6 separate regions of the Homo sapiens genome follow, and all the other regions are linked to region 4. A link means that fine-mapping ties the variant in region 4 to the plasma level of a protein whose gene starts in the linked region. Region 4 holds a variant in brackets. A gene starts in each other region. All regions are shown on their reverse strands. Region 1 holds the start of ASAH1 (N-acylsphingosine amidohydrolase 1). Region 2 holds the start of SMPDL3A (sphingomyelin phosphodiesterase acid like 3A). Region 3 holds the start of CTSZ (cathepsin Z). Region 4 holds the start of LYSET (lysosomal enzyme trafficking factor). Region 5 holds the start of GALNT3 (polypeptide N-acetylgalactosaminyltransferase 3). Region 6 holds the start of ARSA (arylsulfatase A).

Evidence for each region. PIP is the posterior inclusion probability: the model's chance that the variant is causal. Protein levels are from antibody-based Olink assays in UK Biobank. Linkage for the fine-mapping came from a reference panel and not from the study's own genotypes, which makes the PIPs less certain.
Region 1: it holds the start of ASAH1, and the variant in region 4 is fine-mapped to the plasma level of the ASAH1 protein (UK Biobank, PIP 0.95).
Region 2: SMPDL3A starts here. The variant in region 4 is fine-mapped to the plasma level of the SMPDL3A protein (UK Biobank, PIP above 0.99).
Region 3: CTSZ starts here. The variant in region 4 is fine-mapped to the plasma level of the CTSZ protein (UK Biobank, PIP above 0.99).
Region 5: GALNT3 starts here. The variant in region 4 is fine-mapped to the plasma level of the GALNT3 protein (UK Biobank, PIP above 0.99).
Region 6: ARSA starts here. The variant in region 4 is fine-mapped to the plasma level of the ARSA protein (UK Biobank, PIP above 0.99).

Annotation. Positions count from the first base shown.
Region 1 is chr8:18,081,502-18,084,517 of GRCh38, reverse strand. It overlaps ASAH1 (N-acylsphingosine amidohydrolase 1), which reads left to right and starts at 411. Exons shown (of 14, transcript NM_177924.5): 1 at 411-537. The coding sequence starts at 460. RefSeq lists enhancers at 1-44, 845-954 and a silencer at 295-494.
Region 2 is chr6:122,786,591-122,792,007 of GRCh38, reverse strand. It overlaps SMPDL3A (sphingomyelin phosphodiesterase acid like 3A), which reads right to left and starts at 2,750. Exons shown (of 8, transcript NM_006714.5): 1 at 2,550-2,750. The coding sequence starts at 2,661. RefSeq lists a cis regulatory region at 750, enhancers at 666-835, 1,939-2,438, 2,439-2,940 and silencers at 1,030-1,324, 2,430-2,724.
Region 3 is chr20:59,002,822-59,008,040 of GRCh38, reverse strand. CTSZ (cathepsin Z) reads left to right here and starts at 787. Exons shown (of 6, transcript NM_001336.4): 1 at 787-1,055; 2 at 1,556-1,719. The coding sequence starts at 913. RefSeq lists enhancers at 1-43, 724-1,535, 2,684-2,993, 3,234-3,293, 3,304-3,353 and a silencer at 504-1,103.
Region 4 is chr14:93,185,057-93,189,893 of GRCh38, reverse strand. It overlaps LYSET (lysosomal enzyme trafficking factor), which reads right to left and starts at 4,577. Exons shown (of 2, transcript NM_001098621.4): 1 at 4,409-4,577; 2 at 1,431-3,634. The coding sequence starts at 4,488. The coding sequence ends at 3,223. The variant C/A (reference allele first, on the strand shown) is at 3,265.
Region 5 is chr2:165,791,603-165,797,019 of GRCh38, reverse strand. GALNT3 (polypeptide N-acetylgalactosaminyltransferase 3) reads left to right here and starts at 2,773. Exons shown (of 11, transcript NM_004482.4): 1 at 2,773-3,005. LOC124906086 reads right to left here and starts at 3,434. Exons shown (of 6, transcript XM_047446887.1): 1 at 3,228-3,434; 2 at 2,683-3,101; 3 at 1,941-2,220. The coding sequence starts at 3,434. RefSeq lists silencers at 2,831-2,980, 3,051-3,140 and enhancers at 2,211-3,116, 3,117-4,023.
Region 6 is chr22:50,627,965-50,633,109 of GRCh38, reverse strand. ARSA (arylsulfatase A) reads left to right here and starts at 4,958. Exons shown (of 8, transcript NM_000487.6): 1 at 4,958-5,145. LOC124905149 (a long non-coding RNA gene) reads right to left here and starts at 1,616. Exons shown (of 2, transcript XR_007068161.1): 1 at 1-1,616. RefSeq lists a silencer at 4,874-5,063.

The sequences.
Region 1 (3,016 bases), not on the chromosome of region 4:
GTTACATTAGTGTTGAGACTCTTTGGATCCGTTTCGTGGGTACCGAGGACGCCTGGGTACGCGGGACAGGCTGCACCCGCCTGCTAGAGGCGCCCCATCGAGGCGCCACGGGTGAAGCTCCCGGCCCCACCTACGGGGCGGGGCTCCGGCTCGGTCCGACTATTGCCCGCGGTGGGGGAGGGGGATGGATCACGCCACGCGCCAAAGGCGATCGCGACTCTCCTTCTGCAGGTAGCCTGGAAGGCTCTCTCTCTTTCTCTACGCCACCCTTTTCGTGGCACTGAAAAGCCCCGTCCTCTCCTCCCAGTCCCGCCTCCTCCGAGCGTTCCCCCTACTGCCTGGAATGGTGCGGTCCCAGGTCGCGGGTCACGCGGCGGAGGGGGCGTGGCCTGCCCCCGGCCCAGCCGGCTCTTCTTTGCCTCTGCTGGAGTCCGGGGAGTGGCGTTGGCTGCTAGAGCGATGCCGGGCCGGAGTTGCGTCGCCTTAGTCCTCCTGGCTGCCGCCGTCAGCTGTGCCGTCGCGCAGCACGCGCCGCCGGTGAGTGAGCTTGAGCCGAGGCGCAGAGAGGGGCGTGCAGGTGCGGGCGCGGATGGAGGCGCAGGTGTGGCGGCGCGAGCGGGTACAAGGAACACCTCGTGCTGGGCAGCTTCTTTACGGGGGTCTGTGGTTTCGTGCACAGGGGTGTGGGTGCAGAGCGGGCTGGCGAACCCCGTCCTCGGTAGATTCGGTGCTACCTGCAACTAGAACTCCTTTAAAGGAAATCCTAGTCTCTGCAGGATACCTGGGTGTGATTCGCACATTCTTAGATTTGAGTGAGTGTACTTGAATAACCAGTTCCAGGCCCTTGCATTTTGAAGTGTTTAAATAAAATGTTCCGGTGGACCTGTGTGCATTACTCAATCAAGGACAGACTGCCTGATGGTCAGGTGCTTTCTCCCGAAGAAGTTCAGGAGTTCAGCCCAGGATACTGCAGGGCCGTGGGAAACGCTGAGTGGTCCCAAGCTTGGGCGGTGCGAGCAGCCCAGAGCAGGCCCCAAAGGGCCCCCTGTGGCCTTTTGCACCCAAGTCATGGGATCGCCTGTCCCGTGGCTCTTTCCCACGAGCAAGTCACAGGGCTACGGACTTCCTAACTGCAAGAGACAGTGAGGGACGAGCGTGACTCTTTCATTTTACAGAAGAGGAAGTAGACCTAGAGTGAGAAAATATTTAGCCAGAGGTTACACTGTTGTTTACTGAACATGCGTAACGTCCGAGCCTCTTGACGCCCAGTACTCTTTCATAATTCATTTCTTTATAAAGCAATCAGACTGCGTTTGTCTTTGCCAACAGAATCGGATAAGTAGGAACCTGGCGCATCTGGCCTGAGGCTAGATGGTGATGGTCTTGAATAGTTTAGGTAGGTTATTGAAAGTGGAAGCAAGATGTGCATTGTCTTCTTTTATACCTGTAAGGAGAAATTCTTTAAAATCATGGTGGGATATGATTTAGCCATTAAAATTGATATAATGTTCAGCAGATAAAAGTAGAATCCAGAATAGTATATACAGTTTTTCCTGTAATAGGAAAATACACAGAACATGTATGTGGACACGATTAAAGGCCTTAAAATAAAATTGCTCCATTGTGGGTAGGGAATTAATTTGCTTGACGGTAGTTGGTTTTATGGGAATTGGGAGAGACTTTGATACTTTGATACTGTCAGGGCCCTTCATTGAAAGACCACCAGGAACACACCATAAGCTGAACAAATTGGGTTTAGTGTTCTTTGAGGCAAAGGAGACCACACACCATGAGCGACGGACGGTAGGTTATAGAAAAAAACCCATTACAGAATTTGAACTTCGGTTGCATGATTTGGGGTAAGACTGAGGAACCGGGCTTTGCTGTAGATAGAATGCTGTTAGAAGGTGGGGCAATTCTGACTGAGTAAAGAAGGAACAGCCATTCTGTTTAGCACGAGAAGGGGATGTTTGGTGTTTTGTGCGTTGCAGGTGCCCTTGTTTTTGTCTGTTCTTAGAGAAAATCTTCAAGTGGCATTGCTTTGTCTTGGTGTGTCATGTCTCAGAATAATCTTATCCGACGTAGGTATCTGTGGGATTGTTGATGTCCAGGAGGAAAACAGAGCTTACCTGGCTGTGAGTGTCAGATCGGCTTGTAATAATATTGAGAGATAGCTGTGGGACTCAGAGCAGTTTCAGGTGTTGGAGGCTGTTTTTTCTTCTTTCTCAATAGCTTTATTTATTCTAGCAAAAGTATTTTGATAGCTATTTTCAGAAGAAGAATTAACAACCTCTCAATGGATATAATAGTTCTTATCTAGAACAGCGATTATCAAAGTCTAGTCTGGCCACTGGTGTCACTTTGGGAAGCTGTTTTCACAGGTTTTCAATGAAACTGGAAAAATAAGAATGCAAAACTAAAATTATTAATTTAGAATGTTAATCTTTACTCTGATTGTATGGACTTCAAGTTTTCATTGTTGCAAACGTGTTCTTAAAAATAACGGCAGAGGTAGATGTTATGTGCATGGAATTTGTTTTGTTTTAACATCTCCATTTGGCAGAATAAAAATTTGGACCCTCCTGTGCCAAGGCCTCATTAATTTTTTTTTACTGGCCTGGAAAATCCTGGGATCCATGCACTGAAGGACCTTTAGAACCTTACAGAAGTTTAGTGACTTCATTCTCTGAGAAGAATAAGCAGTTTTTCAACTGGAGTCATTATATGATAAACTATAGCCTCATGGTAACAAAAGATATTTCAAAAGTACTTTCAATAAATATGAATAATGAGAAGCAGCTTTAAATTGGAAACAAGTCATTTGATTTAGAACATCTGTAAGGATTTTTTGTGTGTTTGTTTTTGAGGCTTTTCACAATATTCCTATGTGAAGGTCCTCCTGAGTTATTCTTCATTATTGAATTTTTTAGGAGTCTATTAAGAGATGATGGTGAAGACAGTGGCACAAGAAATGTCTGGAGAGATAGCGCCAGATGACATCATCCAGGGTTCTGTA
Region 2 (5,417 bases), not on the chromosome of region 4:
TTAAAAAGATTTCCAAGTCGGGCGCGGTGGCTCATGCCTGTAATCCCAGCACTTTGGGAGGCTGAGATGGGCAGATCACGAGGTCAGGAAATTGAGACCATCCTGGCTAACACGGTGAAACCCCGTCTCTACTAAAAGTACAAAAAATTAGCCAGGCATGGTGGCGGGCGCCTGTAGTCCCAGCTACTCGGGAGGCTGAGGCAGGAGAATGGCGTGAACCCGGGAGGCGGAGTTTGCAGTGAGCCGAGATTGCGCCACTGCAGTCCAGCCTGGGTGACAGGGCGAGACTGTCTCAAAATAAAAAATAAAATAAAATAATAAAATAAATTTTTAAAAAGACTTCCAAAAATATGTGTGTGTGTTCAGCAAATCTAGAAAAACTCTCAAAATTATACCAGAAAATCTTTTAATCCAAAATATTTTATAACTTCTCAAGAATCCAATGAACCATAGTTCAGACATAATTCAGCTCGCCTTATGCCTTATTTGAACATAGTTTGAACACTCAGCAGTATATGAATGGTTGAAGTATGGCTGCTGGGATTGGCCAAACTTAGCTATTGTTACCAGTGCATACTCTTAAGTTAGGTTTTCAGTCTCATCTGACTATTAAGCTAGGTTACAGTTCATTCACAAGGATTCAAATATAGAAGTAAGGAGTCCTTCTCAGGCCGTATTTAGTTTGCTTTAACAGTACCAATACACAAGCCAGTCCCAGCCTACTCAATCTAAAGAACTGTAGCCAAAAACACACAGGTGAAGCTTCCTAGAACTTCTGTCGTCCGACCACCAGGACTTGACAGGGCAGAAAACTAAGACTGGGAATTTAAACGCAAAAACACAAAACAAGAAAGCAGTAGCCAGGCAGGGTGGATGCTGAAAGGAAGTCCAAGCATGTGGGGCTGAGAGGAGGCAGGAGAGTTGTCACATCAAGTGGAAAATACGCAAAATATTACAAACAAGGAGAATTGTGAAACTGCTGAGTGAACACTTCAGACCTTTGAACTCCAGTAACACTTCAGACTTTCGAACTCCAGTGACTCCAGTAACACTTCAGACCACTGAACTCCAGTAACCCCTCTTCCTTCCCCTTTAGTAGGAGGGGATTCAACCTTGCAGTTTCCCAAACAGGAGGTGTGAAGACTCACAGAGTCCCCAGAAAGCGCTCATTCAGGCCTCTTTAAAACACAGGTGAATTTGCCATTGTGTGGCCTCAAGCAACGTGAGACATTTTATTTCAAAACCCTAACCGGTCACATAATTAAAGGAACACAAGCTAAGCCGTAATAAAAGCAGAAACCAGTATACATAAACATTTTGGGGAAATTTCTTGTAATGACTGACATTTGCCACAGTTCGGAAACCAGATTTACAGTTTTTGCTTCAGACCTGACAGCTGAGTCGTGAGGACTTGGCCTTCAAAGAGAAGATATTTGCCCTAGAGCGCTCCCAAGTCCTGAGAAAGCACAGAGGGAGCGAAAGAGGTTTCAGCACTAGGTGCTGCTACCGAGTCTCAGGGACAACTCTCCCCTAAAAGAAAACAGAACCCCACTTCTCTAATTTTGTTTTTCCTCTTAACAGTGCAATTATTTTTAAAGGGAGTTGAGGAGGTGAGGGCACCTTGATTTTTGGAACTGGAGGCTCGGATGGCATTGTACAATCTCCCACCAAAATGTATCTATTCTGGACCAGTGAGTCTCAAACTTAGCCGAAAGGAATCATGCGGAGGGTGGGTTAAACAGCATACTGTGGAAGCCCAACGCCGGCGTTTCAGATTCAGTAGGTCTGGGATGGGCTGGAAATTTGCAATGCTAACAATTTTAAGTGCGGCGGCTGCTGCCACCGGTCCAGGGCACACTTAAGAGAATCACTACTGTAACGGGCACTGTGTTAAGTGCTGGGAGTGAATAAAATGGGTCCCGCCCGCAGGAAACCTAGTGGACATCCAGGTGAAATGAAGTCCCCGTGAGTTCCACGGTAGACTAAGGGGTGAGTCTACCCGAGGGTGCTTTCGCGCTCTGGCTGGGTGAGTGGCAGAAAAAGCCACTGATCTCGGTCGAGCAAGACAGAAGATAGTGTGAGTCACGCTGAAATTTACTTCCCTGAGCTGGTGGGGAAACTGCAGTCCCCCTCCATTCAGGACCGATTAGGGGCCTCTTGCTGTGCTGGACATCGGACTCCCAGCTTCCTCTTCCCTTGAGTCCCGCAGCTTTTCCTTCCTTCCCCAAGGAACAAAACAACTGAGATGCAGGATGTAAACAAAAGCCAGGCTGGCGAAATCCGGCCGACGCGCCCTTGGAGCGCCCCCACCGGCGAGGGCATTTCCCCCGCCCAGCCCCGGCCTCCCGGCTGGACGCCCTAACGCTGTAGTCCCTTGGTCGCCCTCCCCGCGCCCACCAGCCGTGGTCAACGCCGGACGCGTCAGGGGCCCCGCTAGCCCGAGCCTCTGCCGGGGGCAGCTGCCCCCACGCACTTTCTCCTGCTGTGCGCAGGCGCCGCCGCTCCGCGCTCTTTGCCGGCTGGGAAGAGAAGGGTCGCGGACAACTCACCTATCGCCGGAGGAGGATTCCTGCCGCCTGCGGGCGCCACGGGCAGCCCGAGGCCGGAGCGGCAGTGCCAGGCAGTCAGCAGGCAGCAGACGAGTGCGCGCACCAGCGCCATGGAGGGCCGCGGGGCTGACCTGGAGGTTCGGGCTGTCCCGCAGCTCCACTCGGACCGTCAGGCCTGAGGGTGAGGCGGAGACAGAAGACGGCTGCGGGTGTAGACGTCCGACTGATCACGTGCAAAGGCAGATTCCGCAGCGAGTCAGTTCGCCTGACCTTCAGCTGCTGTTTAGCGATGATCTGTTCTCGTATTTCTTAGCGTCAGTGTTTGGCCTAGGAAGGAATGTACTTGTAGAAGCTCAAATTCCGACTCGTGTATCAGTGGTGCAGTTGATGTCAAACACTGACATACTGGTGCTTGGGGATAGAGAAAGACATTCAATTTAGTAAAAGCCAGAAGGAGGGAGAACAAGATCTCTCAAATCCGTGTGTAAAAAGGAAAAAGCAGGGAGTTTTTATTCTGCTAGAGAATAAGAGAGGGGGATTTTCAAAGAATCCAGGGGAAAAGTCTGTTTCTTCAGTCTCAGATAACACCTTTGAGCAATTAGACGTCCAGGCATCCGCAGCTGGTTGCAAAGCCCTTGGAGGTATTCATCCCTTCTGCAAACATTTTTGTGACCCTGAAGTTAACCTCTTTGTTCTTGACGAGGAAGCAGTACCTCAGCAGTTTATAATTATATTGTGGAAACAAGGAGAATATTGGGCAAAAAGCGAGTGGTTAAAATGTGCAAGCAAGCAGGAGCCTGATCAGAATTTTCATTATTTCAGTCACTAAAAAATGCTGGGGTGCTGAAATCTCAACGATCCCGGTTCCATTCTTGGGCCAACCTACCCCAGCTTTAATGGGTAGGGCTCCTCAGTAGAGGTGATGCAGAGAGCCCTGAAGTATCATGATTTGAAGGAAATCAGCAAAAGTTATGGATACTGCAGTGGATCTCGAATTGAAGTCTCTGAACTGGGAACATTAGCACCACCTGGGAACTCTAGTTAGAAATGCAAATTCCCAGGCACCACCCTAGACCTGTTGAGTCAGAAACCTGCTGGAGCCCAGCAGTTTGTGTTTTCACAAGCATTTCAGGTCATGTTAAAGTGATTGTGATGTTTGAAAACCAATGCTCAAAGATACGACGTTTTGTTTTTTGTTTTTTTTAAACTGCCGGGAAGAGAAGGGTCTTAGAATTAGAACATGTTCTGAAATCATGCTTTATGCATTCCAGAGATGCATGGAAATCATAAGTAGAGGTGGTTGATTTGATGCTTCCACGGAACTTTTTTGAATATACTTCTGGCAAAGAAGTAAGTCTATACAAAGAAGTAAGCAAAGATAAGTCTGGCAAAGAAGTAAGTCTATACAAAGAAGTAAGCAAAGATAAGTCTGGCAAAGAAGCCAGAATCCCGAAACTGTGCTGGATCCTGTATTCTGTGTTCCTTCTCTCACCGTTTATGAGGATGCTGATCTCTTGGAGATGACAAGCTAATAATTTAAATTTATAGGGCGTGGAATTCCTTTGCAGAAGAAAATGCTTTCCATAATTACTAACCTCAAAAAAGATGTTGTAGAGTGTATTTCTTTCCCAGCATAGAAAGCTTTGTTTTGTATCCCATGTAATTTAATGGGAGTGTGTGTCATGAAACGGGCTTTGAAGTGGGAAGCAAGGTGCTTCCATTTTCTGTTTTGTAAACCAAAAATAAAATTTGAAGGCCCCCCACAACCATCTGAATGGACGACCATCTGTATGGACTCTTTCCCCAGTCAGGGCACTCTAAAATTTAACCTGAAAGACTGGTTCAGGCCATGAAAAAGGGGATGGGGGGGTTGGACATGCGTAATTAACATCAACATAGACCATAAGTCTGATAAGAAACATTTAAGATCTGTTTTCTCTAAAGCCTGCTACGTGGAGGCTTCGTCTGTGTGACAAAATCTGGGTCTAACAACCCCTTATCATAACCCAGACATCCTTTCTATTGATAATAACTTTTTCAATCAACCAATTGCCAATCAGGACATGTTTAAATCTTCCTGTGATCTGGAAACACCCACCCCCCGCCCAGCTTCAAGTTGTCCTGCCCGTCTAGATCGAACCAATGTAAAAATCTTACATGTATTGATTGCTGTATCATGTCTCCCTAAAATGTATAAAAGCAAGCTGTATCCTGACCACCTTGGGCACATGTCAAGACCTCCTGAGGCTGTGTCACTGGCCCATCCTTAACCTTGGCAAAATAAACTTCCTAAATTGATTGAGACCTGTCTCAGGTACTTTTGTGTTACAGTTTCAAGTCCTGCCAGGGCAGCCGAAGTCCTGCTTCAGCTTTTGGATGATTCAAAAGCTTGCAAGAACCAAAGTGCATTCCAGTGGAGGACAAGATGGTCCCTGGAGTTTCTCAGTTCACAACCTCTAGAATATGGGAGAAAATGGAGCCAGAAAAAACTGGTGAGCTGGTGAGAGAAAACGACTGTAAGGATTAACAAAACAACTTAGGAGTTTTTAGTCCAAACATTTAAAGCTAGGAAAAGGATAAATTATAAAAATAGCTCTTTTCACTCCTTTTTTTTTTTTTTCCAATTTCAATATACTTTACTGGAAGTAACTGGTTGCAAAATAGTTTTTCAGTAAGCATAAAACAAGGCATACACATTTTGAAACTTAAGAAATGTTTGAAATCCTAAAAAGTACAGTATATTAAAATTAGTGGGTAGAAACACCATCCTTCTTTCTACTCACTCCACTTTCTTTTTTTTTTTCTTAATACTCACTAAGAAGCAAAAAACTACAGTGCCCCAACATCTCTACAGGCATATCTCAACCA
Region 3 (5,219 bases), not on the chromosome of region 4:
GGTCGCAGCCCAGAATGCCGGGCCCTGTTCTTACCAGAGAAGAAGGCCATGGTGTGGGCCCAAGGGCCATGACAAACAGAGGGGCCGCAGGGAGCGAGAAGCCCTCCCCCAGTTACAAAACCACGTCCTGGGGGGCCACTTCTGCTTTTGGTTCCTCATTTGACTAAGAAGAGTTTCGTTAGCAGAAAACCTTTTCAAGGCGTCTTTGGAAGTCACATTGGATAACTCCTGATGCCTGCGCCAAGTGGAATCTTCCTTTGGGGCATTTTCTAGAAGGATCCCTCCTTCCTTCTCTGCAAAAGGGAACCGTCCCCCCGAAAGGGCCTGGGCCTTTGGGAAAAGGGGTTTAGAAAGCCAGGCGCGGGGACCCTTCTTTGGGGGCGGTGGCCGCATCCCAGGATCCCTTCCTAGGGGAGGCCTGGGCCCAGATGTGAGGCTGGGGGCCTCTCCCCAGGGCTCAGGGCCCCAGGAATGCAGGGCCAAGGGGGCCCATGAGCCTGCGGCCCCCCACCCCGAAGCCAGGAACCCCGGCAAATGAGTCCAGCCGGACAGTCCCGCGCTCAGGGCGGCGGCCGGCGGCGGGGTCAGGCTGGGGTCTGCCCGGCGACCTCGCGCCTGGCCCGCGAGTTCAGGTGCCCCGGAGCCAGGGAGGGAGCGGGGCGCGGAGCCGGGCGGGGAGGGCAGGGGTCACCGGGCGGGGCAGGAGCAGCGATGGGACAGCCCCGCCCCGGGGGAGTGTCCCGGCCTGGCCGCCGCAGCCTTAAGGGCCGGGCGGGGCAGGGGCCCAAAGTGCGGGGTCGGCCGGGTGCTGGGCCGAGGCCGAGGCCGGGGCGGGATCCAGAGCGGGAGCCGGCGCGGGATCTGGGACTCGGAGCGGGATCCGGAGCGGGACCCAGGAGCCGGCGCGGGGCCATGGCGAGGCGCGGGCCAGGGTGGCGGCCGCTTCTGCTGCTCGTGCTGCTGGCGGGCGCGGCGCAGGGCGGCCTCTACTTCCGCCGGGGACAGACCTGCTACCGGCCTCTGCGGGGGGACGGGCTGGCTCCGCTGGGGCGCAGGTGGGCACCGGCGGGGAGGCAGCCCTGGGGGGACGGGAGGCCCATCGCCCGGGCCAGGCGCGCGCTCTGCCTCCTGGGGGCCCTGCGTCGCCAACAGGCCTTGGAAGGTCAGATCCAGCCGCTTCGTTTTGGGGGTCGCTCCTTCTCTTCCACATCCAGGGTGAGCCCTGATGTTTGTGGGGTTGGACAAGCCCCACCTGGCCAGAAAGCCAGGCCAGCCCCACCTCCTCGGCCTCTGGGGGTGGCCCTTACGGCGCGGCATGGCTGGGGGAGCAACCCGGTTCCCTCCTTTCGGGGGTGCCCTGCCTCCTTCACATTCTGAGAGCGCTGGAGCCTCCTAGTGTGAGGTGGGCCCACACCTGGCTCACCTCTGGTGATTGTGGCCCCACTCCCATGCCCTCAGGTGTTGGGAAAGGCGGGAGGGCCCTACCGAGGGCTTCCTGGGCCCACGGCCCCCGGGAGCCCCAGCACCGATCTGGGTGGGGATGATCTCTTCTCAGCACATACCCCCGGCCTCATGAGTACCTGTCCCCAGCGGATCTGCCCAAGAGCTGGGACTGGCGCAATGTGGATGGTGTCAACTATGCCAGCATCACCCGGAACCAGCACATCCCCCAATACTGCGGCTCCTGCTGGGCCCACGCCAGCACCAGCGCTATGGCGGGTGAGTGGCCGCCCTTTGACTGTGGGCCAGGAAAGCCCATCCCGGCTGCCTGTTTATAGGCCCAGGCAGCTCAGCCCGCGGTTCCAGGGGCCTGTGATTCAAGGCCAGGTCAGCCTGGGCTGGGGTGCTAAGGCCGAGGAGCGCGGGCCTTTGCCCTCTGCTGAGGTGACCCAAGCTGGGTCATTCTGGGGCTTTTGGGTGACAGGCAGGACTAGGACTGAATCCCAGTGACAAGTGGCTGCCAGGTGCCCTCTCTCCCCCAAAGCTTGTGACCTCAGCCATTGGGATAGAAACAGAAATGCAAAATCACTGAGTCCCCAGGCTGTATTTGAGGATACAGAAGTAAACTGCTTCTCAGCACAGATGAAAGCCTGTCCTGGGCTTGGAATATTGGGTGAGGCTAGTTGGCTACAGCCCATGGCCTAACCTGGTCACTACCTCCAGCCTGGTGGGTTTCTATCTTAGGCTTTTGGCAGGAGTAGGGTAGGGAGGCTCTTAGCAAAGAGGAAGGGGAAACTAAGGCCCTCCCTATCAACGAGGCTGCTGCACCCTGCTTTGGGAGAGAAGGCGGGAGAAGGGACAGCTGCAAACCAGCCCCAGGCCCACCCCACAGCATTTGGAAGGGACTCTGCTATCCCCTCTCCAGTCACAGCACAGGGTCCAGGAGCCTGGATTTCCCCTGGAGATGGGACTTGCGTGGCCTGGGAGTTTGGCCCATGAGCACTGTGGTGCTGTTGCCTCTTCCCTGGCCTTGGTCCTCATGGGTCAGGCCTGCTGTACACCCATGTGAAAAGGATAGACTACAGTGTGGCTGCCGCTGTGGGCCAAGGCTGGGGGACATGCGTTTGCGTGTGCTCCATCTCACTGACGCCTCCTCAATGCCATGATTGCTTCCAGTTTGCAGATGAGGAAGCAGGCTTTTTGCAGAGAGATGGGGAGGCTTGAGCATAGTGTGAGTGACAGCTGAGATTTGAGCCCGGAAGCCTGGGCTTTGTGCCAGGATGTCTGATGGGCTCAGTCTTGTGAATGAGGGGTTCTTGCTCTGGGGGTAGGGTCTGGACCCCAGAGCCAGCCAGCTGAAGCTGTGGCATCCGTGGCGTCTCCCCCGGGGGCTGGAACACACTTCTGATCGTTCAAAGGTCCCTTTGATGTGGATGGAGCTGGAAGGTCTGGGAGACCTTGGGCGGGCTGCAGGGTGTGGGTGGGGCTAGAGGCAGAGGACTGGGCAGAGTCTAGGGGAAGTGTCCAGGCCTGGCACCCGCTGAGGAAGTGAAAGAGCCTTTGAGGGTGGGGTGAGGGTGAGGGGAGAATAGAAAGGTCAACAGGTGCCTGTGGGAAGCCTTGAACTCTTTGAGAGGGAGTCAGGTGACAAGATGTGCGTCTGTGAAGGACTGCGGGTAGAAAGGAGATGGCTTTCAGATGGATGTGGGACCCTGGCCAGGGGTCAGCCCTGCCGCATTTCCCCAGGGGACTCTCTCTGGGCGGATGACTGCTTCACCCCACTTTCTCCTGAAACCTCCTTCTCAGCGCACCCAGGCCCAGGCACTCGCTTCCTCTTTCACTGAGGAATAGAAGCCACCAGAAGGGGACTTCCACGGGGCCCTGGCCATTTGCCAGCCAAGGCAGCAGGTCCTCCATTTGTCTTCCCTCCTCTCCCCCAGGATCAACTGTCTTGTCCCCTCACTGAGCCCGTCCCTTCCCACTCAGGGAAGCTCTCCCACCTGGAAAAAAGGAACACAAAGCCCCCGGCCCCACCCCGCCCCAATTCTGGGCTCCCTAGGGAAGTATCTGGAGTCCCTCCACTTCCTCTTCTCTACCCTTGAACCCACTCCAGCCTCAGTCCCACCTCTGCCACTCCACCGGCACTGTTCTTTCCACTGCCACCTGGGGCCCACCGTGAAGCATTCTCCTGATCACGTCTCCCCAGGATGCTTCCTTCTCCTGCACCATACTGCCCGCCTCCACCTCCCTGGCCACTCCTTCCCCTCTCCCCAGCTGTCTGCTCCTCAGAGTTCTGAGTGTCAGCTTCCCCAGGACCAACCCTTCACCTGAACTCAGCTTGACATCCACCTGCCCACTCGCCCGCTGTCCCGGTCACCTGACACCTCCAGCCTCAGACCTTCAGGTCTGGATGGCTCCTTCCACTACTGTCACCTGACAGCCCATTTCTTCCCCAGTCCTCCCTGGCTGTCCTTCCGGCTATGCAGGCAAAAGCCTGGACTGGTACCCGACTCCTCTGTTTTCTGTCCCTCATATAATCCACCCACAAGTCTTGTCGGTTCTACCTTCGAAGCAGATGCAGAAATCACGCACCGCCCACCGCCTCCTCCAGGTCTAAGCCACACCGCCCCACTGCCGACTGCCCTCACTGGTCTCCTGGCCTCTGCCCCTGAGGCCACAGTGAGCCTGTGACAACCCATCAGAACATGTTCTTTGGCTTGAAACCCTCTCAGGATTCCACTCAGATAAAAGACAGAACCCTCTGGCCTTCAAGAGCCTTCACCATCGGGCTCCCTCCCAGTCCGCCCTTGCTCCCCTGCTCCTGCGGAGAGTGGAGCAGGGAGGTAGCTTCTCCCACCAGGCACCTCCTCTCTCCCTGAGGTCCCATGGCTCCCTCCCTCCCTCCTATGGATGTCACCTCAGCGGGGTCTTCCTCAGCCACCCTATGCATATGACACCCCACTTCCTGAATTATCTCCCGGATTTATTTTTCTTCATGGTGCTGTAGACTTTGCACAGTTACAGATGCTCCTTGACTTAACTGTGGGGTCATGTCCCGACAACCCCCTCGTAAGTTGAAAACACCATGAGTGGAAAATGTGTTTGACACACCCAGCCTCCTGCACACCCTGGCCTGGCTTTGTCTGCATTAAACGTATTCAGGACACTTGTGTTAGCCCACAGTGTGAGTAATAAGCCCGTTCCCAGATGGGGCTGGTGGGATGAAGGATTGAGTTTGGCCGTGGGAGAAGCTTGTGCATACCTCAGTGAGCTGGTTAGGCCGGGTCCAGATGCTTCAGGCAGGAGTAGACGGAGAGGCCAGAACCGAAACTGCTCATCCATCCGAGCTCTGCCTCTGGGCCAGGACTGCTGTCGCCGGGTTGGGTTGGGCATAGAAGGATAGGGCTCGGGGGCAGGCCATGGGACGCCCTGCACTGCCAAGTGGAACTCCAGAAGCCCAGGCAGGAGGTGCTTCCAGAAGGATGGAGCGACCGCTGTGCTGACTGCTGCCGGAGAGTGGTCAGCTCGGATGACAGTGGAGAAGTGACCTTTAGCAAGAGAGAAAGGGCTGAAGAGGAGCGGGGCAGTAGGGGTCGGGGCACTGTCTCAAACCATTGAGTGAAGCAGAAAACCGTGATAGTGAGTGGGAGGGGCCGGGGGCTTCCTCTGTTGTTGTGAGAAAGGCAAGTTTGGGGTGTGCAGATCTGCTTAGAGGGGGCATAGCTGACAAGGGAGCGGGGAGAAGGAAAGCTGGAGGGAGCCAAGTCCTTGGGAGGAAA
Region 4 (4,837 bases):
TTGTGGCCCATGCGATCTTGGCTCACTGCCACTCTCCCTCCTGGGTTCAAGCGATTCTCCTCCCTCAGCCTCCTGAGTAGCTGGGATTACAGGCATGCACCACCAGCCGTGGCTAATTTTTCTATTTTTAGTAGAGACAGGGTTTCACCACGTTGGCCAGGCTGGTCTTGAACTCCTGGCTTCAAGTGATCTGCCCACCTCAGACTCCCAAAGTGCTGGGAGTAGCATGAGCCACCCCTTTTTAATAGAAATGGGGTCTCGCCATGTTGCCCAGGCTGGTCATGAACTCCTGGGCTCAGGCTATCCTCCCATCTCTGCCTCCCAAAGTGCTAGGATTACAGATGCCACCACTCCCAGCCTACATAAAGCATTTATAAAACAAAACAAAACTGAAATAATTTTCTTAAATCACTGCCTCAAGACTAATAAAACTGGCAACTCTCAATGATTTCCCTCAAATTACTCTCCTTTTTGAGAAGCAGTATAGAATGATAAAAAGCTGGAGATCTGAAGCCAACATCCTAGGTTCAAATCGGCTCTTTCACATACTGGCTATGTGACTATGGACAAGTTATTCCTACGTGTTTCAGGTTTCTTCTGTAAAATGACACTAGTAGCAGTATAATACCTGCCTCCCAGGACTGTTGTGAAGAATAAATGTAAATCACTCATAAACAATGTCTGTAACATGCATACTGAATACTTAAAAGATGCAAGTGATTTGGTCATCTGACCCTCACAAAAACAAGTATTTCAAACTGCTGCTTACTTTGAGGATTCCACGTGTTATATCAAAAGATATATCATTTCAGTAACTAGACCTTTGGAGGCAGTGAGATAAATGAGACTAATTGATCTGAAGGATCTGATCTGCTACTTTTACATCACAAAGGTACCTGCTTTATCTTTTAAGTAACAGCTTGCTATGGAATACTCAGCCTTCCTTTCGGGTTCAGTCAGATGTAGTGGAAAGATGAGGTTGCTAGGAAACTTTCAGATTTCTAGTAGACAAATAGAGAAAAACTTGTCAATACTATTGCCATTTCCATTCTTTGGCATGACTGGGCAAAGAGTACCCAGTGCTAAAACATTTGTCATTTGTGAGAAGCGCTATGCCTCTGTGGTTAGTAACGATGGCGTTAGAATGCCTGGTTATAACCCTGGCTCTGCTACTCGCTGTGACCTTTGGCAAGTTACTTGACTTCTCTGCCTCAGTTTCCTTATCTGTGAAATCTGGATAATAATACCCATCTTATAGGGTTGTTGGGAGGATTACATTAGTTAATTTCCATAAAGCTCTTAGAATAGGGCCCAACAGAATAAGCATCAAAAAGTGTTGATTATTAAAAGCATAAAATGTTTTCCAGTATTAATGACATAACTGTATAAAAATATATCTTGATCTCATGCAGAAAAGAAATGCTACTGTGTCCATGTTTTAGTTATTTGTATTAGTACCAGATGTGAGGTAGTACAAATGCAAAGGAGAAGGTACAGGAACACATCTTCATGTAATTAACCTACTGCCTGATGACCTGACCTTGGGCCAGAAAAGAAAATCAGAAAGATTATGACTTGATAGCATCTTTTAGAGGGGTCTCATGCATCTGATAAGGACTGGACTAAATTACCTGCTATAGGCTGGCCATGGTGGCTCATGCCTGTTATCCTAGTACTTTGGGAGGCTGAGGTGTATCACTTGAGGTCAGGAGTTCGGGACCAGCCTGGACAACATGGTGAAACCCCGTCTCTACTAAAAATACAAAAATTAGCCAGGCATGGTGGTGGGTGCCTGTAATCCCAGCTACTCGGGAGTCTGAGGCAGGAGAATAGCATGAACCTGGGAGGTGGAGGTTGCAGTGAGCTGAGATCGCACTTCTGCACACCAGTCTGGGCTACAGAGCAAGACTCCATCTCAAAATAAATAACATAAATAAATACAGCTAGGCATGGTGGCTCATGCCTGTAATCCCAGGCCTTTGGGAGGCTGACGCAAGTGGATTACCTTAGTTAGGTGAGGAGTTTGAGACCAGCCTGGCCAACATGCTGCAACCCTGTCTCTACTAAAATAACAAAAATCAGCCAGGCATGGTGGTGGTCACCTGTAATCCCAGCTACTCAGGAGGCTGAGGCAAGAGAATCGCTTAAACCCGAGAGGTGGAGGTTGCAGTGAGCCGAAGGTTCCAGTGAGCCAAGACTGCACCACTGCACTCCATCCTGGGTGACAAAGCAAGGCTCCGTCTCAAAAATAATAATAATAATTTAAATAAATAATAAATAACCTGCTAGATTTTCATTGAACACATTGTTTCCATCTTCTATTTGTAAGTTATTTCTAGCCTTTCAACATTTAACACTTAGTTTCTTCCCAGATAGTTTTCTAAATCAGTAGCATTGGAGCGTACGTTCTCAGGGCCTTCTGAGACTGTGTCACAAGTCATGGAAAAAAAAAATTTTTTTAATTAAAAATAGCTGGGCATGGTAGCTCACACCTGTAATCCTAGCACTTAGGGAGCCAGAGAGAGGAGGAAAGCTTGAGCCCAGGAGTTCGAGACCTGCCTGGGCAACATAGCGAGACCCCATTCTCCACAAAAAAGAAAAATATAAAAAATAAAACCATTAAAAGCATTAATAATAATTTAGCCATTACCAAGAGGAAGAACAAATTCTGCTTATCAAGACAGCCATTTCCTCAATAATTTTTTAGCAATGCCTCATAAGCTGACAGCAAGTCTAGACAGCTGGCTTAGCTGCAATAGAATGAATCGGTGTTTTAAGTGTGAAGAATTTTAAAGCAAGCCAAGTAATTGTATAAAATTTAAATTTTATGATCATGTCTGGACCTTTTTACACTTAACACAATGGAAATGTTCATATTCATTTTTTTCCCCAAAGGAAAAATTTCTGAATCATCACTATGTTGCACAGTAGAATAGAAATATGAATTCAGGTACTTAGTCAAGTTTCTAAAGAATGCAAATAACAGACATGATTTAACTTCCAAAATCTGAAGTCATCAACATGATTTTGTAGTACTCTATCTCAGGTTTTACCTAAAAATTCGTTATTATTCAGATAAAGATAGCTCCCTAATCACATGTTTTTAAAAAGCCTCTGCCCCACGACAACTTCCTGAGATCTGTGAAGAAACTGCAGTCTTGTGATCAGACTCCATATAGGACTGGCAGTTTTGTAATCGTAGGGAAAAAACGGTGACTGATTTTACGTGTCAATCAGTTGTAGTCTGCTGATCTGATTAGAAGC[C/A]TTGACAAATGCCTGGTGGCGATTGCAAATAACTGCCAAGCATATAGGGATGATACAGTAGCCCACTGTTTTGGGATCAGCTCTTGTACAAGAGTATAGGAACAAAAACATCTGTAAGTAAGGTACCAGAAAAATAACTGTCCACACCCAAAAAGGCAAGGAGAGTAATTGAGCTTTCAAGGAGTGTGTCCATGTGGTTCCTTCAAGGGGCTCCTCAGGGTGCTGTTGAATGTGTTCCAAGGCCAGCCTGTTGTAAGTCTCACTGATTTCAAAAACATAGTAAAATGCTGCTGCACTGGCTAACAGATACAATCCCACTCCAATCCATCCCATCCGCTGACGGAAGTTCATCATTCTCCATGCTCTGTGCCTTCAAATTAAAAAAGAAAATACAATTAGGGTCTAGTAATGCTGTCACGGCAACTACTCCAAATGTACTTGCTTTATCTCCAAGAATTCTAGGCCGGGCGCGGTGGCTCGCGCCTGTAATCCCAGCACTTTGGGAGGCTGAGGCGGGTGGATCACGAGGTCAGGTGATAGAGACCATCCTGGCTAACATGGTGAAATCCCGTCTCTACTAAAAATACAAAAAAAATAGCCGGGCGTGGTGGCGGGCACCTGTAGTCCCAGCTACTCGGGAGGCTGAGGCAGGAGAATGGCGTGAACCCAGGAGGCAGAGCTTGCAGAGAGCCGAGATCACGCCACTGCACTCCAGCCTGGGCGACAGAGCGAGACTCTGTCTAATTAAAAAAAAAAAAAAAGAATTCTAAAATATCCCACTAACACACTTAAGATTTAAAATAATTAAATTAAACACCTATTAAGAAATGTAAAACTTACAGGTTGTTTTGTGTAATACTTACAATCAAGTAAAACAACACACACAAAAAAACAAAAAACCATTGATTTCAGTATATACTGAGTTCTGCTTTTTAACGGGAATCCCTCAGAATAAATCACTGCATCCTACTTAAACAGGTCCATAATACCCGCCCTCCAGAAACTGGAATTAAACTAGTTTCTCACAGCACATTTCACTTTGACAGGTGAAACACTTTCTGGCATAACAGTACTGCTTCAGACGTGAACGCGGGGTGCTACAAGTCAAGCCCCCAAGTTAAGACAGTAACTCCTAAGCACTTACAATGGTCCCGAAAATCTTCCTGTTCCCACGGCAAGCGTTAAAGAGTCACTCAGCTCTGAATAATCGGGTGGCTTTGGCATTTCAGAGAAAGCCAACATAAAATAAATCCCCTGGGTCACCCGGCTAGGAGAAAGGTGAGCGCCGCCAGCCTGGAGCACCAGCTACTAGTGATTAAGAACGGCGTGACTGCGGCGGGTCACGCGCGGCCCGGCCCCCGTCGCCGCCGCCGGAGACCCGCTCTGAGAACCTGACCCGGCAGGGAGGCGTCCCCGCCACTTGGGCCTCCGGGCGGCCGGCCCCGCCCCCTGCCGCGCTGCAGCGCCGGCACGCCGCGACCAAGGCTGCGCAGGCGGCGCCAGGCCCGGGCCTCGCCGCCTTGCAGCGCCGCGAGCCCAGCGCCCGTCAGCGGTCGCCGGCGGAGCCTGCTTG
Region 5 (5,417 bases), not on the chromosome of region 4:
GTGTGTGTGTGTGAGAGAGAGAGAGAGAGAATGTTTGTTTCCTTCCTGTGTAAAATCTGCCCAGTTTTCTATCTTAACTGTCATTATATGTCAAACATATACTATTAAAATTAGCTTATTTCTGAAGCATGTCTACACTAAGGTTCCTGGATTTTATTTATGATGAAATGCTAATTTCTCTTTATGAAACAAATTCTTTATTTCATAATTTTGAATAGGATGGTACTTTCAAAAACCTGCATCTGATTAGATTTGGGGCATTAAATATTTCAATATGATAATATTTTTTTCTTGGGCCTGCAGCATTTTAATTTTATTGTCACATAGAAAATTTTTTATTAATATTAAGACTTTGCTTTCAGAATGCTTTGAAATAGTACAAGCAACGTTGTGTAAAATAGTACAGGTGGAGCATCCCTAATCCACAGATCCAAAATCTGAAATGTTCCAAAATTCAAAACTTTTTGAGCACCAACATGACACCACAAGTTGAAAATTCCACACATAAGTACTTTACACAAACTTTGTTTCATGCATAAAATTATTTACAATGTTTTATAAAATTACCTTAAGGCTATGTGTATAAGGTGTATATGAAACATAAATGAATTTTGTGTTTAGACAGGTCTCATCCCCAAGATATCTCTCTCTCTCTCTCTCTCACTCTCTCTCACTCTCTCTCTTTCTCTCTCTCTATATATATGACACTCAACGTGCACAAGTAATGCCACACTCAGAAAAACTGCTTCCTTCTTTAAATTGTCTGTCTCCATTGTAAAACTGACAGTCAAATTTTAGTAACTCCTGATCTTTTTTGTTTCTTCTGTTCTTTTTAGACTCCTCATCCAGCATTTTGGTCCTGTTTGCTGGCTCTCTCTTTTAATAGGTCTACCCTAGCTTCTCTTTTCAGTTGTTATTTGACGTTACTAGTCTTGCTGTCAATGCATCTCAGTCCTTGGATTCCAGATTGTTATTCTATATCCATCTGCTCTGTCCTGATTGTCAGTGAAAAGTGTTGCTCTTCGCCTGGTGGGACATCAAAACTCTGACAATCTTTGGCTCTTCATTCAGAGATGGGTGGTGCGTGCAAAAGGGTACAGGTTTCTTGGTTATACATTTAGGATACCTTACAAATTTTCCAAAGACTAACATTAACCTCTGGTTAGGGGTAAACGACAAAGTGGCACAACGAAGAAGAAGGAGAAGGAGAAGAGAATTTCAGTAGTTAGTATTTTCAGTTCTGGACCTGGACCTAAGGAAAAACACTGCCAAGTTAGTATATCAATACACACAAGTATCTCCTGAACTATTTTTTTGTTTGTTTGTTTTTGGAGGGAAAGGGAGCTTGGCAATTGCTTGTAGGTACTGATATTAAAATGTTGCAAATACATGGAGGTTCCTTGGTGCTCGCAAAATAACCATGACATGTAAAACAAGCAAAGAACTACCTAGTTTACTAAAGTCTTAAACCCTAACTCATAGATGTCCTAGTATAAAATAGCACTATGGATGCTAAAACCAATGTCTTAGAGTAGTCAAATACTAAAGATACACTTGTTGATACTATACTAAACTGTATTTTAAACCTTATTTTTAGGTCACGCATAGCACTAATAAAACAGTGAATAAGCACCATAAGAGCATGTCAAAATGTAGGAGGAAGGCCACAACTAAACTTCATAGTAAAACCTACCACCATGTGATTAAACACGACACCAAAAAGTTTTTAGCTAGTTTTCTATTTATATCCCTAGATATCTTTGGGATAGGGCCAAAGAAATGAGTTCATAGAAAGGTATAAAGGCCATTTTAAGTCCTGGTTTTGGGTGTGTCAATGTTTGTTGCAGCAGCAGAAGGAAGGCTGAAACAGAAAGTTGTGTCATAAATGGAACAAATACTGTTTAACAATTTTTTTTTGTCTTAAAAACAGCAAAACCCACCATCTTCCTGGAGTCTGCGTTGTTCTCTTCCAGAATAGATGTTGAGCTTTTAAACAAACCTGCAGTAGAAGCAAGCCCTCTCCAGGAAATCCCAATCTCTTTCCAAACAGGGACAGCAAAGGTTCTCTCTGTTGTGGCTGTTTTTCCCTCTCTTCTGGGAATTGGTTTGCCTTCTGAGAGCATCCCAGGAAGGGGAGGTGCGCCCCAAATTGGCGAGGCTCTGCCAAATACCAAAGGCTCTTCTTTGGAAGAAGACTCCTCCTTTGGACGTGAGGCGCCCCTACCAGAGCGCCCGCGTACAGAAACGGAAACCACTAGCTGCGCTGAAGTGAGTCAAGTGATGAAATCAAGACTACACGGGAAGGAAGCTCACGAAACCTAACTGGTGACAGAAGCTGCTGAACCCTGCCCGAAGAAACCACATGAGCCAGCAGTTGCTGCCCTCCCGAAGTGGTCCTCGGAGGCAGCGCACCCCTTCATTTTGGCGAACCGAGGAGGAAGGGAGGAACCGTGTGGGGGAAATCTAGAACTTCTGGTTCCCCAAGGACCCAGCAGACTGTGTTCTGGCTACAAGGTGATCACTGCCACCAGGTCAGTGCAGGATTCCTCCAATGTAGATGGGCCGGGAGCCACAACTTGCGCGGAGCAGCAGCCTCGCCGACCACTCAGAGAGAAGCCGCGCGACAGCCAGGCTTGGCCCGGACGGCGCCCCCACCCTGCGCGCGCGATCCAAGGTTCTCACCTGGAGCGCTCAGGTAGGGCTGGGGCGGGGCGGGAGGCTGGCGCGCAGGCGCGGAAGTGGGGCCTCGCCCCTGCCGACGTCGCAGGCTGGAGCTCACCTGGGAGACTCCAAGTGGAAGCCGAGCCTCGGTTCTGCCTCTCCAGGCAACGCGGGAGGCCCAGCGGGAAGGCAGGAGGCGGCGGCGGAGGAGGAGCTCTACTGAGCCGCAACTGTGGCGACAGCAACCGGAGTCGCAGCCGCCGCCACCTGCACCTGGCGCCTAGCCCACGTCCAGCGCCTGCCCGGCCGCCGCTTCCCGCCACCCTGCCCTGCCCACCCGCCAGGTAAGCCGGCGGCAGGCGGAGGGAGACGCGGTACCCCTGGGCTGCGTTAGAGCAGGCGGGAGGACGGCCGCAGGGGTTCACGTGTTGGGGACAGGGCTACGGTCCAGGTGGCCGGTTGGAGACGGTCTCGAGAGCAGTGTGTCGGTTGCCCCTGGAGAGATCCCGAAAGGGGCGCCCTGGGCCAAGGGGCAGGTGGCGCCTCGGGGGGGAGCCCGGTCACACCCTCTCGCCCACGGTGCCCCCGCCAGTCCCTATGGGGCGGCCCCTGAGGAGCTGGACGGAGACCAAAGACCTGGTGGCCCCGGACTTGCCCTTGGGAGGGTCGCAGCGTGGGGACCCTGAGAGGGAGGGCCCGGCGGGAGGCGGGCGCGCTTCCACTCCGGCTAGCAGGTTGCCTGTCTCCTCCAGCCTCTCTGCCCGAGAGGACATCCCGCGACAGCGAAAGACATGGCTTTGCCAGGCAACTTTCCTAGCCGGGGACCCCAAACAGTTCTAGGCTGCAAACCGCGGCCGCCGAGCCATTTAAATGGTTTCCGAGTGGTTTGGAAAGGGCTCTGTGGCCGGGACGCGGACACCCCTCTCTCTCTGTTTCGACTCTGCACTTTTCCGGGTGCGCTCTCCAGGCCAGAGTTGGGCCCACTTTCCTGATCAATGGAGAAGAGTTCTTTTCTTCCGTGGCGGGAAGAAATCCAACTGCCACGCACCAACCACTCACCATCTCGTTAGAGGACCTGTTGACTTAAGGACCTGCATATCGCGGCTATGGTTTGCCTGTGGCATATGACTCAAAGGTTCAAAAAAACATTGTTTCAGGATCCTGCCACGTCTAAGCTTGGGTGTGCCAGGCCCAGATTCCTTTCCCTGCCTAATTAGGCTTTTCTGAAGCCTAAGAATTGAGGGTGAAACTGGCGCTTACCTTAGACTTTTATTTCCTTCTCTTTCCAACTCATCAAAGAAACTATTTCTGTTTTAAGAACCCCATCGAGTTACCAATATTTCCGATTCTTGAAAACGTTAACATAACTTGCTATAGAAGTTACACTACATAATGAAGACATTTACAGTCAAATTCTATAGCTAAAAAATATTAAAGTGACAGCATTTTAATTAGAAAATCTCTGCTTGTGGGAAAATCTGTTGCTTCTTTTATTGTATATATTTTTCTTTGCGTTTGTGGCTAAAATCCATGAGGTTAAAGTCACACGCTGCCATTAGATTCTTTTTTTTAATTTAACTTTTAATATCTGAAATCTAGTGCACATGTTAAACTTTCCAAGCAATTTGTACCGAGAATCAATCTTTATATATTGCTTTAACCAACATTTTTACGTAGAAGTTTCTGATAATAATAACAATTCCATTGTTTTGTTCTATCTCCACACATTTTAAAAATATTTTTTAAATTGCACGTTTTACTTAAAATGCCTGATGCAACATGTAGTGGGGTTATTTTTCTTCTTCTTTTTAAGATTAGATGGAAATCTAAAAGCCAACCACAGCATAACATGATGTAATTATTAATTCAATCACCACTTTTCTACATTTCTTAAAAGGATCTCACCTGACCTCTTAATCTTGTCTCCATACAGAGAAACAAATGTGCTAAATACTGTTTAAATATGAGATATAGGAGTTGTTCCCTGAATTTTGAATATTAGTCTTCATTACTTACTAGGCAGATGTTACCAGACTGTCTTTCCTCTTAACCTCTAGTGAGAAATGTAACATGTTTTCATTAGCTAGAGTAACAGTGTAACTTAATCTATCTGTTAAATAGGAAAAATAATACTTTCCTAGATTAAGATAACAAAACCTTAAAAACAATCAGGAGTATCTTCCAGCCCTAGCATTCTCGAGATCCCTTTCTCACTTTGGAGATTCAATACTCAAACCATCCATTTATGAAAAATTGAAGCCAAGAGAGGTATTCTAACTTCATTTCACTCAGAGATGGCATGATCATTCCAGTGGCTTGACTCATGACTCCTGTATCTTACTTTTCACCACCCACATCCTCACTTACCATAAGATGTTTATCTTTTTTCTTTCATATAATTTGTAAGGCCTTTGTAATTACAGAATTGTCCATTGCTCTTTCTTCACTCTGATTTACCCTCATTTCTACTTGTCCAAATATTGCCTGACTTCGTGGAAACTACCCAGTGAAGGCATCATGCTCCTCTCATTGTGGAATAGCATGCATATTGATGATGCCATGTCAGTTGAGACTTTTAGTTCCTTCTTGGTATTTCCAAGCCACAGTTAATTTTTTAAGTCAATGTGGATAACATTATTTAGTCTTCTGATCTTTTTATTATATTGGCTTAAAATATATTTTATGAGGCAGCTACCCAGTGCCTTTCATCCATTTGCAACACTCCAGATTTTTTATTTCAAGCACACTTCCTTAAC
Region 6 (5,145 bases), not on the chromosome of region 4:
CCCAGCACTTTGGGAGGCCGAGGCAGCCGGATCACAAGGTCAGGAGTTCGAGACCAGCCTGGCCAACACGGTGAAACCCCATGTCTACTAAAAATACAAAAAAAAAAAAGAAAAAAAAAGAAAATTAGCTGGGCGTGGTGGCTCACACCTGTAATCCCAGCACTCTGGGAGGCCAAGGCGGGAGGATCACGAGGTCAGGAGTTCGAGACCAGCCTGGCCAACATGGTGAAACCCCATCTCTACTAAAAATACACACACACAAAAAAATCAGCCGGGCGTGGTGGCTCACACCTGTAATCCCAGCTACTCCAGAGGCTGAGGCAGGAGAATTGCTTAAACCCAGGAGGCAGAGGGTGCAGTGAGCCAAGATCATGCCACTGCACTCCAGCCTGGGCGACAGAGCAAGACTCCGTCTCCAAAAAAAAAACAAAAGAAAGAATTCAAAAGTCACACAAATATCAAACCAAAAGGGACTGGTTCCTCTATTGGGAATTGAACCCAGGCCATGGTAGTGAAAGTACAGAATTTTAAGTAGTTTCCAAGATGCAGCAGTCTTCATTGTGAATCCTGCAGGGATCCAAAGCAATGGTTTGCGCGCACAAAGGATTTTAACTTGTTACAGGTCAGATTTTTGCTCTTTAATTTTGTGAAGAGGATTTCTAAGGCTAGCCACAACATTATTATGTGTCTTTCCTTTAATCTCCCCACAAATACAAATAAGGCAATTGTTTAGAATGAGAGACCTCTAAAATCTTTTTTTTTTTTTAATTTAGGGATCTTTCTAATGTAAAGGATTCATCTTTTGGCTATTGACAATCAGAATTTCCAATGATGTATTTATTCCAATAGCAACTCAATCCAAGAAGCCCCTTCATGGAAAGCCCAAAAGATTATTTTCCAGGTTTAGAGAGGGCATAGAAGAGGAGGTTCCAATGATGCCCCCAAAATTCACTCCCAGGAATAGGCAAAGACAGCAAAAGACTCTTGTTCCCAGAGACAGTTAAGGAACGTGTTTGTACATACAGTGCCTCCAGTAACACACAATCTGTCAGGGGCTGCCAGTCACAGACCCATTAACCTGTAACACAGGGTAGGCCTGTTGGGATTGGGCTTTCTGAGGACTGACCAGGCAACAAACATTGGGATGACAAAAGCCCCTTATGGATGGGCCTGAGGAGAGCAAAAACCACCTGGCGACCATCAAACATCAAACAGGCCCTCCGAGGCAAAACTCCTTATCTGGGGAAAATCAAAAGTAACTAAACCTCCCTATTATCTAAAGCAGGCATCTGGTTCCAGATTTCTTCCCCCAAAAAACGTGTAAGTAACTATAATTTCTATGTGTCTCCAGAATACCATGACGAAACTCACTGTACAACCGTCGCTGACATTAAGGCACCAAAATTACTATAAATGTAATCATTTATCATGACTTACGTGGCTAATATGGTCCAAATTACTGTTAAGCCTCCACTTTAAGGCCTATAAATGCCCTTAAGGAGAAATCCACCCGGCGTACTCAGTCCTCTTGCTGAGGCACCTCATTGCACTCTTCTGCAGCATTCTAATAAACTTTCTTTCTTTTCTTTTTTTTTCTTTTTTTTTTTTTTGAGATGGAGTTTCACTCTTGTTGCCCAGGCTGGAGTGCAATGGTATGATCTCAGCTCACCACAACCTCCATCTCCCAGGTTCAAGCGATTCTCCTGCCTCAGCCTCCCAAGTAGCTGGGAATACAGGCTCCCGACACCATGCCCAGCTAATTTTTTGTATTTTTAGTAGAGATGGGGTTTCATCATGTTGGCCAGGCTGGTCTTGAACTCCTGCCCTCAGGTGATCCACCTGCCTCAGCATCCCAAAGTGCTGGGATTACAGGCGTGAGCCACCGTGCCCGGCAAACTTTCTTTTTTCTTTTTTTTTTTGAGACAGTCTTGCTCTGTCTCAGCTCACTGCAACCTCCGCCTCCCAGGTTCAAGCAATTCTCCTGCCTCAGCCTTCCAAGTAGCTGGGATTACAGCCACGCACCACCACACCTGGCTAAGTTTTATACTTTCAGTAGAGACAGGGTTTCTCCATGTTGGCCAGGCTGGTCTCAAACTCCTGACCTCAGGTGATCCACCCACCTTGGACTTCCAAAGTGCTGAGAGTACAAGCATGAGCCACTATGCCCGGCCAAACTTTCCTTTTTCAAACCTATTGTCGGTAAACTCTTTTTACCAACCCGCAAGTTGACCACCACTCCCAGTGCCGGGGCTCTGACAGCTCGCCTGGCAGGGACTTCTTAAGACAAACTAAAAGCTTGACACATTCAGAACAAAAACGGTGCTGCTTAAAATATTAAATGTCTTGGGTTCCCAACCATTTTCAGACTGACCACAAAATGTGACCTGCGAGTCACTACCTCGGATTGGCAGAGGCCAAGAGAGTGCTCCTGAGGTAGGAGGTGGGACTTAGTTGACCCAGTTGAGGATTGGCTAAAACAGGGTTGGGGCAATAGCAGCTTTCAGTCAGATATGCCCGCCACTGTGCCATGTCAGTTTACCATTGCCATGGCAACACCCAGGAGTTGCCACCCCTTTCCATGGCAATGACCCAATGATGACTACTCCTTCCCTAGAAACTTCTGCATAAACCATCCTTTAATCTACATGCAATCAAAAGTGCGTATAAATGTGACTGCAAAACTGCCCTGAGCTGCTACTCTCAGCCTACGGGGTGGCCCTGCTCTGCAGGAGCAGTCACAGAGCTCTAACGCCACCTGTTCAATAAAGCTGTTTTCTTCTACCTCTGGCTTGTCTTTGAATTCTTTCCTGGGCAAAGCCAAAACCCTCACTGGCTAAGCTCCACTCTGGGGTCTGCCTGGCCTGCATCATTCCCACTCGCTCACAACTCAAGCTTTCAAGGACATCAAAAGAGAGGAGAATCTCATCCAGTTTTCAGTTCAGGGACCCACAGCAAAGTCTGTCTAACTAGACGCATCCGATCAGAGCTGCAAAACTGACTAGCCTGCAGGACGGCCCCAAGACGGGGTTTACAGGGGTTTTAGGCCTGTGTTCTACCCTCTTTATGACAGAAAAACACAGAAAGACAAGAATGAAAGACGACTATTTCTGGGGAAAAAAAGCAATCAAACAATATGAATACAAAACTAATCACATAAATACATTTCTCTCATTAAAACTTTGAAGAGGAAAACAAGGTAAACAGACATTTTTACCGTCGGCTTGACAAGATTCCAGAGAGGCCGGGAGCCTGGCTGCTAAGACCTTCTTACCCTTCTTTCTGCCAGCTTGTCGGCTCCTGGGTTCCCCTGACGGAGGCTCCCAGGAGAGTGACTTTAGTTATCCTACCGACTGCACCAAAACTGTAGGAGCCTAGAGAAAAACTTTTCTGCATTCTGAGTTCACAGAAAATCAACTGACAAAAGCCAGGTTAGTAAGAAAAAAGGCATACAGATTTATTCATGCACACAGGGAGAACCAGAGTGATGACCCCAACCTCCCAATGGGGTTCGGAAGCTTATATACCATCTTGAGGTTACAGAAAGAACATGGGCTCAAAGTATGGCCACAGTTTATGGTGGAAAATCAGGTGACCAGTGGCAAGACCGGTTACAGGAGGGAGAGCAGAGGAGGCCTGGCTAGCAAAGGTGGCCTTGTTCTACAGATGAAACCTCACAGGTAGCAGCCCTGAGAGAGAACAGATGGTGAATGTTCCCTTCAGGCCTTTAAAGGCGTCAGACTGTTACTCTTCCCAGATCAGGCAAGGAGGGCCTCAGAGGAGGCCTGGCCGCATCAGTGTAGATTCTCTCCACAGATGCAAATCTCCCCCACAAAAGACAGCTTTTCAGCTATTCTTCTATTTCCAGTCCTTCTGAGTAACTGTCTTGAACCGTGTCAAGGAAATATATTTGGAGGTGACATATTGTGTTTTCCTTCAAGATCAAAAAGGTTAAGTCCAAGGCTGCCCAACGAGGGAGCGAGGACCCAATCACGTTGTCCTCAGATGAGTTTTTCCCCAGCAGCGTAACCCTGCAACAGGCCAGACTGGACCCCAGACACACATTCCACACCACACCACGCCTCCACCACCACACGCACACAACAGACACACCCTAAACACCAGACACACACACACACCTCAACCACCGCAAACACACATACGCCACACCTCTAACACCACACACACCCAACACCACACACATACGTGCCTCAAACACTACACACACCTCAACCACCATACACCTCAACCACACACACCCCTCAAACACCAAACACACCCCTCAACCACACACACACACCCCTCAAACACCACACACCCACCTCAAACACCACACACACATATCCCTCAAACACTACAAAAACACACACACACACCTCAAACACCACACATGCACACACACCTGAAACACCACACACCTGCCTCAAACACTCCACACACACCACACACAGACACGTACACAGCCCCCCGCACCCAGCCACAGCTTACACGCACACAGACACGCGTACGCAGGAGAAAGGGTGTCAAAGCTTTTGCTAGTCGTGAAGGAAGAGCCCGCAGTCCATGGGGCTGCACGGTTTTCCCTGCCATTTGCTCATTCACCGGGTGCCCATAACGCTCCGCGCTCAGGTCTCTTACAGGAGGGCCCGAGTCTCCCAGTACCGGAGGTCTGGGGGCGCACGAGCCGCTCCTCCTCTGGAGAAGCTCCGGACCGAGAGGACACCGGACACTGCGCAGCGCCGAGCCCCGCGCGCAGCCCGGGACGCCTCAGCCAGGGCCGACCGCGCAGAGGAAGCTCCCAGAGCCCGTTTCAAGACCGCAGCCAACAGCCTCAGGCGCACACGGCGGCCTCGGAGCGAGCACGCGCAGCAACGCCCCTCGCCCCGGCCCGCCCCCGGCCCCGCCCCCGGCCCCGCCCCCGGCCCCGCCCCGCAAGGGTCACAGGTCACGGGGCGGGGCCGAGGCGGAAGCGCCCGCAGCCCGGTACCGGCTCCTCCTGGGCTCCCTCTAGCGCCTTCCCCCCGGCCCGACTCCGCTGGTCAGCGCCAAGTGACTTACGCCCCCGACCCTGAGCCCGGACCGCTAGGCGAGGAGGATCAGATCTCCGCTCGAGAATCTGAAGGTGCCCTGGTCCTGGAGGAGTTCCGT